2 separate regions of the Homo sapiens genome follow, and region 1 is linked to region 2. Evidence: fine-mapped expression QTL. Tissue or cell type: subcutaneous fat. Region 2 holds a variant in brackets; the other region holds the start of a gene. All regions are shown on one strand. Distances are from middle to middle.

What was found. PIP is the estimated chance that this variant, and not a neighbour inherited with it, causes the effect.
Region 1: it holds the start of P2RY4, and the variant in region 2 is the best candidate, but not a certain one, in a credible set for the expression of P2RY4 in subcutaneous fat (GTEx, PIP 0.62).

Annotation. Positions count from the first base shown.
Region 1 is chrX:70,257,071-70,262,809 of GRCh38, reverse strand. It overlaps P2RY4 (pyrimidinergic receptor P2Y4), which reads left to right and starts at 2,606. Exons shown (of 1, transcript NM_002565.4): 1 at 2,606-4,644. The coding sequence starts at 3,186. The coding sequence ends at 4,283.
Region 2 is chrX:70,341,936-70,346,935 of GRCh38, reverse strand. It overlaps KIF4A (kinesin family member 4A), which reads right to left. Exons shown (of 31, transcript NM_012310.5): 12 at 3,175-3,233; 13 at 2,954-3,059. Among named protein-coding and RNA genes, the nearest start is that of KIF4A, 54 kb to the right of the region's middle. The variant T/A (reference allele first, on the strand shown) is at 2,334.

The sequences.
Region 1 (5,739 bases), 84 kb after region 2:
ATGGAAGTTACAAAGAGGCGCCCAGGCTCACATAACTAATAAGTGGAAGAGCAAGGATTTAAACACCAGCCCGTCTGGCTTCAAAAACTTGGGCCTCTTATGTAATGTCACAGTAGTCAGCTGTCCAGGACTCAGGTTATGACTGTGTCCTCCACTGCTACCTTTTATTCCACCCTTTACTCTGCCACAGGGCAAGGATCTTCAGTTTCCCCATCCAGGTTTCTGGGCTTTCCGAGAGATCTAGATTCTAGATTCTAGAAGTCCGCCTCCTCCTCTCACTCCCAGGATCCAGCTGGGTGACATTCTCAGGACCTGAGGATCAAGTAAGTTCAGAGTCCCCATTGCTTCTCAGCTCCATGCAGAGTGGATTCTGCTCCAGCCTGCTCACCCCTCCCCAAAGGCACTGCTTACCTCATCCTCAGAGTCCTCCAGACCGGGTTTGCCTCTAGTGCCTAAGATATACTTACGGAGGCTTAGTTGGCTTCAGGAGCCCCAGATCCTGAGCTGCTGGCAATTCCCTACACCAGGCTCTCAAACATCTAGGCTTGCTCTCTGCACCTTCTCCACTATATTCAGACCAAGTCTCTGGGAGTGATCAAGAGAGACGAGGGGTACTGTATAGAAAGGGGTAGAGTCTGTATGGGAAATGTATTGGCTGGTATCCTTAAGGAGGCATGAACTGTCTCCTGGCCATCCCCTCTTACATGTATAATAGGCATCTCAAAATTTACAGGCTGAAAAGTGAACTCCCAATCTTTCCCCTAAACCCACTCCTGTCTCTGTCAACAGTAACTCTATTCTTCCAGTTGCTCAGGCCGGACATTTTGGAGTAATTTTTGACTCTTCTTTCTCTTATACCCCACATCAGTAAATCTTGCTGTCCCTACTTAAAAAAGTCTATCCAGAATTTGACCACTTCTCATCATCTCCACCACTGTGATCCAAGCTACCATCATCTCTATCAGCAATAGCCTCTTGACTGGTCTTCCCCCTGTACCTCCAGCCCTGCAGTCTATTCTCAATATAGAGCTGGCCAGTGAGCCTTCTAAAATGTAAGTCAGATGACACCTCTCTTCTCTAAACCCTAAGTGCCTTCCCGTTCACCAAAGAGTCCTTTACAATGGCCTCCAAGGACCTTCATGATCTGGTCCCTGCCAAACTCTCTGACCTCATTTTTTACTTTTCCCCTTCTCACAACACCTGGCCTTTATTCAAAAGTCACCCTTAATATTTATTTATTTACTTATAGACAGGGTCTTGCTTTGTCATTCAGGCTGGAGTGCAGAGGTCTGACCATAGTTCACTGCAACCTCAAACTGCTGGGCTCAAGTGATCCTCCTATCTCCGACTCCCAAAGCACTGGGATTACAGGTGTGAGCCACTGTGCCTGGTTTCATTCCTAATATTTAAAACAACAACCCTCTCTATTACCCTTTTCCTTCCCTCTTTATTACCCTTTTCCTTCCCTCTTTAATTTTTCTCCATAATGATGATCACAATCTACATATTTTACTTATTAATTTTATTATCCCCCAGTAGTATGTAAGCACCATTAGGGTGGGAGTTTTTATCTATTTTGTCCACTCCTAAGGAACTACCAGTAACTAGAACTGGACCAGGCAAAAGTAGGCTCTCAGTAAATATTCGTGGTTTTAAAAAAATTATTTATATTTGAGACAGGGTCTCACTTTGTCACCCAGATTGGAGTGCAGTGGCGCGATCACAGCTCACTGCAGCCTCAACATCCCAGGTTCAAGCACTCCTCCTGCCTCAGCCCCCCATGTAGCTGGGACATCAGGTGCATGCCACCACGCCCGACTAATTTTTTGTAGAGACAGGGTTTTGCCACGTTGTCCAGGCTTGTCTTGAACTCCTGAGCTCCAGCGATCTGCCTGCCTCTGTCTGCCATAAATATTTGTTGATTCTTTCCTGGATCATAGCCAGTGGCTTAGAGAGGCAACTTAAGCATAGCAATTAAGTTATGGATGCTAGAGCCTGATCCAAAGGCAGGCCTGTCTTGGTTCAAATCTTGACTCTACCACTAACTAGCAAGACACCTAAACTTTCTGTGCCTTCATTTTTTCATCAGCAAAGCAGAGACAATAATAGTATCTAGCTCATAGAGAGCCTATGGGGTCATTAATAAGTATAAAGCACTTAGAAAAATGCCTGTCACATAGTAAGTGCTATATAAGCATTCTTTGTAATTATATGCATATGAGATTTATATTAAATATCAGTAGTTTAGATTTTCTAAAATCTTTCAATGTGTTGTCTTGCACTTGCCCATGTGAAAATTCGTTTCCCATGTTTCTGCTCACTTACACAGGCTTGTATGATCCCCCTGTAATCTATCTCCAGGGACCTGGCTCTTCATCAGTAAACTTGGATGTTTCCTCGTGTTCTCCCTCCTGCAGTCATTTCAAAGCTGTTAAATAGTAATCTCGCTGGGCCCCAGTTTCCCAATCTGTACAATGAGTGGGTTGGACTAGGTCATCGTAAAGGGCCTTTCTAACTCTTTTAATCTCCCAGGTGGGAGGAGGGACAGGCCCCACCTCCAACTCCACCTCCTTGGATATGCCCTCTGGCTGCCAAGGGGAAGGGTGACAGAGTCAGCTGAGCTCAGCTTCAAGGGGACCAGGTAGGAGATGTGCCAACGTTCTTGGGCAAGGGTGGCAATGGGGCTCCTGGGCTGTAGGCAGGCAGTGGGGAAGGTGTCATAGGTAAATGTCATCTGGAGACACTGTGACCAGGGCACTAGGAGAGGCGAAGGCACTGTGGGGAGAGACACTCCTCTTCCAGGGATATAGCTGTGATGACGAGTCAGAAGACACTTTGGGTCTGGGTATCTTCCCACTTTGGATAGTGCTGGGAGGCCTCCACCCTCTTCAGCCAGCCAGGCTCTTAGGGACAGAGTGAGCTGCAGAGTGAGTACAACCCAAATACACGGGCTGCCTGCCTGAGCCCCAGCACTGCCTGCTGCCCACCACTTCCCAAGCTGGACCAAGGGAGCTTGGGTAGGGGCCAGGCTAGCCTGAGTGCACCCAGATGCGCTTCTGTCAGCTCTCCCTAGTGCTTCAACCACTGCTCTCCCTGCTCTACTTTTTTTGCTCCAGCTCAGGGATGGGGGTGGGCAGGGAAATCCTGCCACCCTCACTTCTCCCCTTCCCATCTCCAGGGGGGCCATGGCCAGTACAGAGTCCTCCCTGTTGAGATCCCTAGGCCTCAGCCCAGGTCCTGGCAGCAGTGAGGTGGAGCTGGACTGTTGGTTTGATGAGGATTTCAAGTTCATCCTGCTGCCTGTGAGCTATGCAGTTGTCTTTGTGCTGGGCTTGGGCCTTAACGCCCCAACCCTATGGCTCTTCATCTTCCGCCTCCGACCCTGGGATGCAACGGCCACCTACATGTTCCACCTGGCATTGTCAGACACCTTGTATGTGCTGTCGCTGCCCACCCTCATCTACTATTATGCAGCCCACAACCACTGGCCCTTTGGCACTGAGATCTGCAAGTTCGTCCGCTTTCTTTTCTATTGGAACCTCTACTGCAGTGTCCTTTTCCTCACCTGCATCAGCGTGCACCGCTACCTGGGCATCTGCCACCCACTTCGGGCACTACGCTGGGGCCGCCCTCGCCTCGCAGGCCTTCTCTGCCTGGCAGTTTGGTTGGTCGTAGCCGGCTGCCTCGTGCCCAACCTGTTCTTTGTCACAACCAGCAACAAAGGGACCACCGTCCTGTGCCATGACACCACTCGGCCTGAAGAGTTTGACCACTATGTGCACTTCAGCTCGGCGGTCATGGGGCTGCTCTTTGGCGTGCCCTGCCTGGTCACTCTTGTTTGCTATGGACTCATGGCTCGTCGCCTGTATCAGCCCTTGCCAGGCTCTGCACAGTCGTCTTCTCGCCTCCGCTCTCTCCGCACCATAGCTGTGGTGCTGACTGTCTTTGCTGTCTGCTTCGTGCCTTTCCACATCACCCGCACCATTTACTACCTGGCCAGGCTGTTGGAAGCTGACTGCCGAGTACTGAACATTGTCAACGTGGTCTATAAAGTGACTCGGCCCCTGGCCAGTGCCAACAGCTGCCTGGATCCTGTGCTCTACTTGCTCACTGGGGACAAATATCGACGTCAGCTCCGTCAGCTCTGTGGTGGTGGCAAGCCCCAGCCCCGCACGGCTGCCTCTTCCCTGGCACTAGTGTCCCTGCCTGAGGATAGCAGCTGCAGGTGGGCGGCCACCCCCCAGGACAGTAGCTGCTCTACTCCTAGGGCAGATAGATTGTAACACGGGAAGCCGGGAAGTGAGAGAAAAGGGGATGAGTGCAGGGCAGAGGTGAGGGAACCCAATAGTGATACCTGGTAAGGTGCTTCTTCCTCTTTTCCAGGCTCTGGAGAGAAGCCCTCACCCTGAGGGTTGCAGGGAGGCAGGGATATCATGGGTGACCTCATCTCTCATAACCCCTTCAGTTGCCGACTCTTTTTAGCCAATGCCAATCTTCTACTCCTTTCTCGTTGTTTCTGTTCCTTCCTGGGGCCATTGGTCCTACAATCTTCCTGAAAATCTTCCCCAGTCCTCTTTCCCTGTCCCATTTCCCCCACAGCCTCCTATAGCATGTGTTTCTCTACCCAGACCAGAGCATTCAGCTGAAGGGGTGGATCAGGCAGAGTCATCTCAGGATTGGCCTGACGTATCTGATGGTGATAACCAGAATCAGGAAGTGGAGGCAACTTCCATATCACAGATGCCGAGGATGTGCCATATGTAGCACCCACACTGACTTCCTGGTTCTCTCTCAAAGACAGCATAGTCTTGCTTACCAAGATGCTGGAATAGGGTGTGATCCCAGGGAGCCTGCATGCCAGGGTCCCCGCATGTAGCTGGGGGCCTGACACTGTTGAACTGGTGTGCAGCATGAATTAAAGTCCTGTGATAGGGTGGGGACCTTAGCTGATAACAGCCTTTGGGACAGGAATGGGACTGGACCTTCTTTATGATGTTTGCTGAGAACATGTATATGACAGCTCTCCTGTACTTAACAAAAGGACAAGTGGATGGCTCAGACTGAGGGGGTGGAGCTCTCACGTCTATGGCTGTAAGTTCTAGCATTGAGGAGTAGAGCAGATTTGTGCAGAGGAAGGTGGTGACAAGAATTGACGCCCAGAGCTAGTGTTTCACTGATCTCTCCACTTTCTCTAGGTCCTGCCCCAAATAAATGATAAATCTGTCACCAGCTCTTTCAGATCAGGCTTCAGGACTTTGAGGCCAGGGTGGAGCACTAGGACTGGGAAGGTTCTTTTTAAAGTTTCCCACCCATTCATTGCTTCTCTCTTCCAGTGCCATCTTAGCACTTACAGGCTTATTGGATCAAGTTGCAGAGGGGAGGGGGGTGCATTGGAAATTGAGAAGCTAACCCCTAAGCCTTGGGAAGTAAGAATTTCTTGGCAGGCATTCTTGAGAAGGGTGGGCTCACACTTACAGGCCTTCTCCCTCTGAAATCACCTTCCAGCCTGTTGGTCTCCTGAGTCAGACCCCAGCCTTGCCTTTCTTTTTTTCCCACCCTTGCTAACCTGTCTCTGATCTCTTACTTATCTAATGATACTAACTCTTATTGGCTTCTAAGCGTCTCTCTCTGTAGAGTAGGGCTGGGGCTGGACTGAAGGAAAAAAAAATGACTTCAGTTCCCCTGAATTTCCCTTTTTGTTTTTTGAAAGGCTCCCACTTTCTCCCTAGATATCCAGGA
Region 2 (5,000 bases):
ACTAGTCACTTAAAATAAAAATAGTTTTAATCCAGAATGAAGGGCACAAGCACTTACTTTTGAAACATTTTGCTTTCACTGTAGTGAGTCTTAATAAAAGCCATGGGATACATTGTTGTGTATTTCCAAAAAAATATATAGCTGGGAGGGTCTCCGAACAATAGATGTGGAGAACTCTGATTCAGGAGTCCAGCAGGACTCCTGGATAAAAGGGCTTACTCTGCCTAACTGTGACAGTGGATGGAAGCCAGGAACTTTATCAGTTTGTGGCAATCTTTAGCACCCTCCTACTGTGTGTGCCAAGTACATTTAAGTGGCAGACACAGCGATTCTACGGAGTTCCTCTGAGCCAGCCACCACTAGCAACTCCCTCTACAGGCACACCAGGCACCAGTCATATTGCCAGATTCTCACTGAGGATGCTTTATTTTATTAATTTGGTTCCACGGGTTTCCTTCATCTTTTCTATGTGACTCGAAGCCCCAGAAATGAGGTGGTATTAATCCTCTAAGATTGGTGTGATGGCCATGAACAATGGTGGGTACCCTGGGTCACTATTTCTGAGCTTGTAAGTTTTGGCCCCAGTGGGCTTCTGCAGCCTAGATTATCTTAATTCTGAGGCAGCTCACACAAGGTTTTCATGTATCAGATGTTTCAGTTGCATTTGAGTGGCATTATAATTGTGAAATTTAACCTTGTGATAGCCGTTGTCTAACAAGTACTCTATACTTCAGCCACATTGAAGTTCTTACCATTTTTTAAACTTTCATACCTCTTTGCTTTTATCTATATCTTTTCCTCTATATATAGTCTAGTCCCTTTTTAAAAAACCTTATTTATTTTATATAAAAGCTCTTAAATTTTTCCTTGTGGAGCAGGGCTAACTCGTAAGCAGTGTGCCCAGAGTTGGCCTGTCCCTTCCCTTTTGTCTGCATGGCAAACTCCTGTTCATTTTTAGGACCCAGTTTCTTCTATGATGCCTTCCTGAATTTTCTGGACTAACAGTTAATCATCCTTTGTTTTATGATCCCACTGCACTTTGCTTACATTGCTGATATAAAAGAAAGCACACGAGAGAGGATTCCCAATTTTCCTTGCCTTCAACCCTCGCCTCCTTTCCCCGTTATCCCTATTTTGCCACCTCTCCCACCTGTGAACCTTGACCAACTGAGAAACTACAAGGCTTGTAAGAACAACTCTCAAAATATAATAACAGTTATCCGGATAGGATTGCATCAGTATATTCCTGAGGAAGAGGTATAAAAAAATGAAACAATCTCCAACCAAAAGTTTCACATCAATTAACATTAAAAACTGTTACCTGAGCTAAACCACACGGACATACAACCCTTTCTTCTCTTTACTCTATAAAGCTCCAATCTTGCTTTACTTGGGAAGTTACCTGGAGTTCAAGTGTACCCTGAGTGCATCAGCTAAATAATGCTTCTTCTTCTTCTTTTTTTTTTTTTTTTGAGATGAAGTCTCGCTCTGTCATCCAGGCTGGAGTGCAGTGGCACAATCTCGGCTCACTGCAACCTCCATCTCCTGGGTTCAAGCAGTTCTCCTGCCTCAGCCTCCCAAGTACCTGGGACTACAGGTGCATGCCACTACACCTGGCTAATTTTTGTATTTTCAGTAGAAACAGGGTTTCACCATTTTGGCCAGGCTAGTTTTGAACTCCAGACCTCAGGTGATCCGCCCACCTTGGCCTCCCAAAGTGCTGGGATTACAGGCAAGAGCTACTGCGCCCAGATGAATAATGCTTTTAACCCCTATTTGAATCACTTAAATTCTTTCCTTTTGATAGTAATACAGCACTTAGTAAGATTACATAGCTAGGAAGTGGCAGAACTGGCTTCAAACCAGGGTCTGTGTGGCTCTAGAGCCCAGGCTCTCAATTACTGTACCCTGTTTGTTGGATAAATGAGCTGTCATCTTGGACTGCTCATGATAGCTTTACAGTACTCCTTATTCTAAAACACTGCCTAATAGTCTTTGGGGAGTTTACTCATTTAATTTCTTAGAGCTGGCCATCATAACAAGTCCTGACAATATTGCATGGCATTTTTTTAATATTCTCTTCAAGAATAAATCTATGTGTGGATAATTTTGTGACACACTATTGACAACTCTAGAAAACACTGGGCAAGACCAGGGACTACAGTCTCATGGTTCTGGTAAAATTAAAATCTCTGCCCAAGAGCTAGGAATTACCACCAGGCATCTGCATACACATCACTGTTTCAGAATAATAAACAACAGAGTGTAGACAGAACAAAACCAACCATTACCACTTAACATAGTATGTTATAGTACGATTTCAATGTTTTTTT[T/A]AAAAGCATATATGCCTAAGGACTAAGAGATGGAACACCAAAACAAAAATAGATTTTTAGGGATAGTGGGATTGTGAAAATTTTTCTTCTGGGAAAAACAACAAATAACCACCCCACCCCCAAAACACACCTGCCACTACTATAATGGTTCTAAAAATAAACAAAAATGGGAACTTATGGTAGAACAATCATTCAAACTTACTTATTATTGGTTATAAAAGAGGCTTATGGTATTCCCTGGTTGCCTTAAGCTATCTGTCAGAATTTAGCTTATTTAAAATTGGGGTATGGTACAAGTCCTCTTTTTAAGTTAGCCTACACTGTGAGGACAGCAAATCAATGACTGCTGCTCTTGCTACCTAGGCAATTTTGCACTGCTATGTTGTTGCTTCTGTTATTTGATTAGAATACTGAAATACTAATGTGCATTGTATATGTAACCTATGAGTGTTTTAACAAACTCAATATTCAGATCATATCAAATGATCCACGACCTCTGTCCAAAAGCGGCTCACAATCTAGTTGTTTCAGCAAAAGGCACAGAGCTAGAAAGGCTTGTATGTGTCAAGAGAAACAAATGAAAGTGATATGCCTATTTACACTGCCCCTACTTGGCTTACCGATAACTGGGTAATCAATTGCTGCAGGTTACAAATTATCTCTACATTTTCTTTCAATTCCTGGTCTTCCAAAGTCTCCACTAGCTTTTGAAGATCCAGTTTGCAGCTGAAAATTCAAACAAAAAGAACCCAAGGGTTATTCATATGACAAAGGCCAGAGGCTCCACGATTATATACTAAGATGCTATAGGTTGCTAACAAATATCTGGTGGGCAACTTACGCCGCATGCTGCCTGAGCTCTTCTAGCTTGGCGTTCATTTTTTCATTCGCTTGCTCTGTCTGCAACAAAGACCCAGGAGATCATCAGTGGCGGTGCCTGACAGCCTCACATAATTATGCTCTCCTACTCCTATGAATTAAAAGCTAGGTAGAGAGGCTGTCTCCTTTGCTGTAACAGAGGATTTAGTGGGCTTTGGTTATTCAGTGAAAAATGTGTTTTTTAAAAGAGTCATGGAAATTAGCCCTTCAGTCAACATGAGCTACTAAAAATAGCATCCGAGCAGCTAGGTTTTATGCTTGCCATGAAACTCAGACTATGGGGTGGAGTGTGAAGCCTTAATTCCATAGAGAACTTTGCAACTGAGGGGAAAAAGCAATATTTCCTGGCATGTTAGTCCCTGCTGTTTGCAAAACAAACAAACAAAAAAAACAAACAAAAAAAAGACAAAAAACAAACAAACAAAAAACCCCACTTACTTTAAACTGCCTCCTACACTACGCTGTTCCCTAGCCCCAGCATAAGGGCATTTAAAACATAAAAGGGCCTCACACTAAATTTGAGCTGAGATTTTTTTTTTAAGTTATACTATTTGATATGGTAGGCTAGTTTTAGCAAAAGACAGCAAGAAAAAGGGTACGGCACAAGAATGATGGTAGAGAAAGAAGAAACAGCAGAAGGCAGCTTACGTTTTGGGAAGGGTGATTGATATTTTCAGTTTTATTTCAATCACAGTATCTGTAACATGCTGGATACTATAACAGATCTGGAAAGAATCGTTTATATAGGACAAAAATGTTGTGCTTGTTATGAAGTTCTGACAGGATATCAAACAATAAGCCTATCAGGCAGACACTGTAACAACCTTATAAAGGTCGGATGAGTATGTGGATAGAATAAGAAGTAGTTTCTGTTACAACAGCCTCATTCACATACATGTGAAACACAGCTTCTAGAGTTACTTCAAAGCATAAATACAGCACTGGAGACAGAAAACTGTATATAAAAATCCCCTATATCCCATTTTCACCCTCCGTTAGTAATGGACAATACAATGGACGTAGGATTTAGCCCACTTGAAAGAAATCTTTAAGCAGCTTATCTTTCCTTGACTAGAGAGCACACTGATGCATGAAGGTGTATACATTACAGAGGTTCAATTATATTTTGGTGGAAACTTATTTTTGCTTCTGGCAACAGTCGTGCTATCAAAGATTGAGTTGTATTTAGACTAGTAGAAAAACCTTAGTGATAGAGTCAGCATGCACTGATCCAGGAGGTTACTGACAGACAAGCAGGTAGTAGGAGTCAGAACTCGTGTAATCAGTTATATAGTGATCCACTATTTGGAAATCAATCACATGGAAAATGAATTAAAATTAATTTCCAAGCTGTTGTATCTCACCATGGCAGCTGTTAGTATGGGATATGAAATGTGACAACATTAGGGGAAGAGAGATGGAAAATAACTAAAATCTTGGAGAAGGAATGGTTACTTGGTATTATGGATAAAGATTAGGCAGGATTTAAGGTGACAGAGGTACTTGGTTCTTTACTTTCTGGTATTTTTAAATGAATCTATTTTAAAATGGGATTTATGTAGATTCTTTGTGGTAGATACATAGGTGTTCACTGTACAATTCTTTTAACTTTTCTGTATGTTTGATTATAAGCCCACATATTTACCCCAGAGGGGCTCCCTGGAGGATATGGTAATACAAATACATTTCTTTCAATATAACCTGTCTCTCATAATGAGATACATGTTAAATATTCTGGAAACTAAAGCTAGTAAATGTTCAGATTGCTAGTAGTTTATTCTTGGGGGC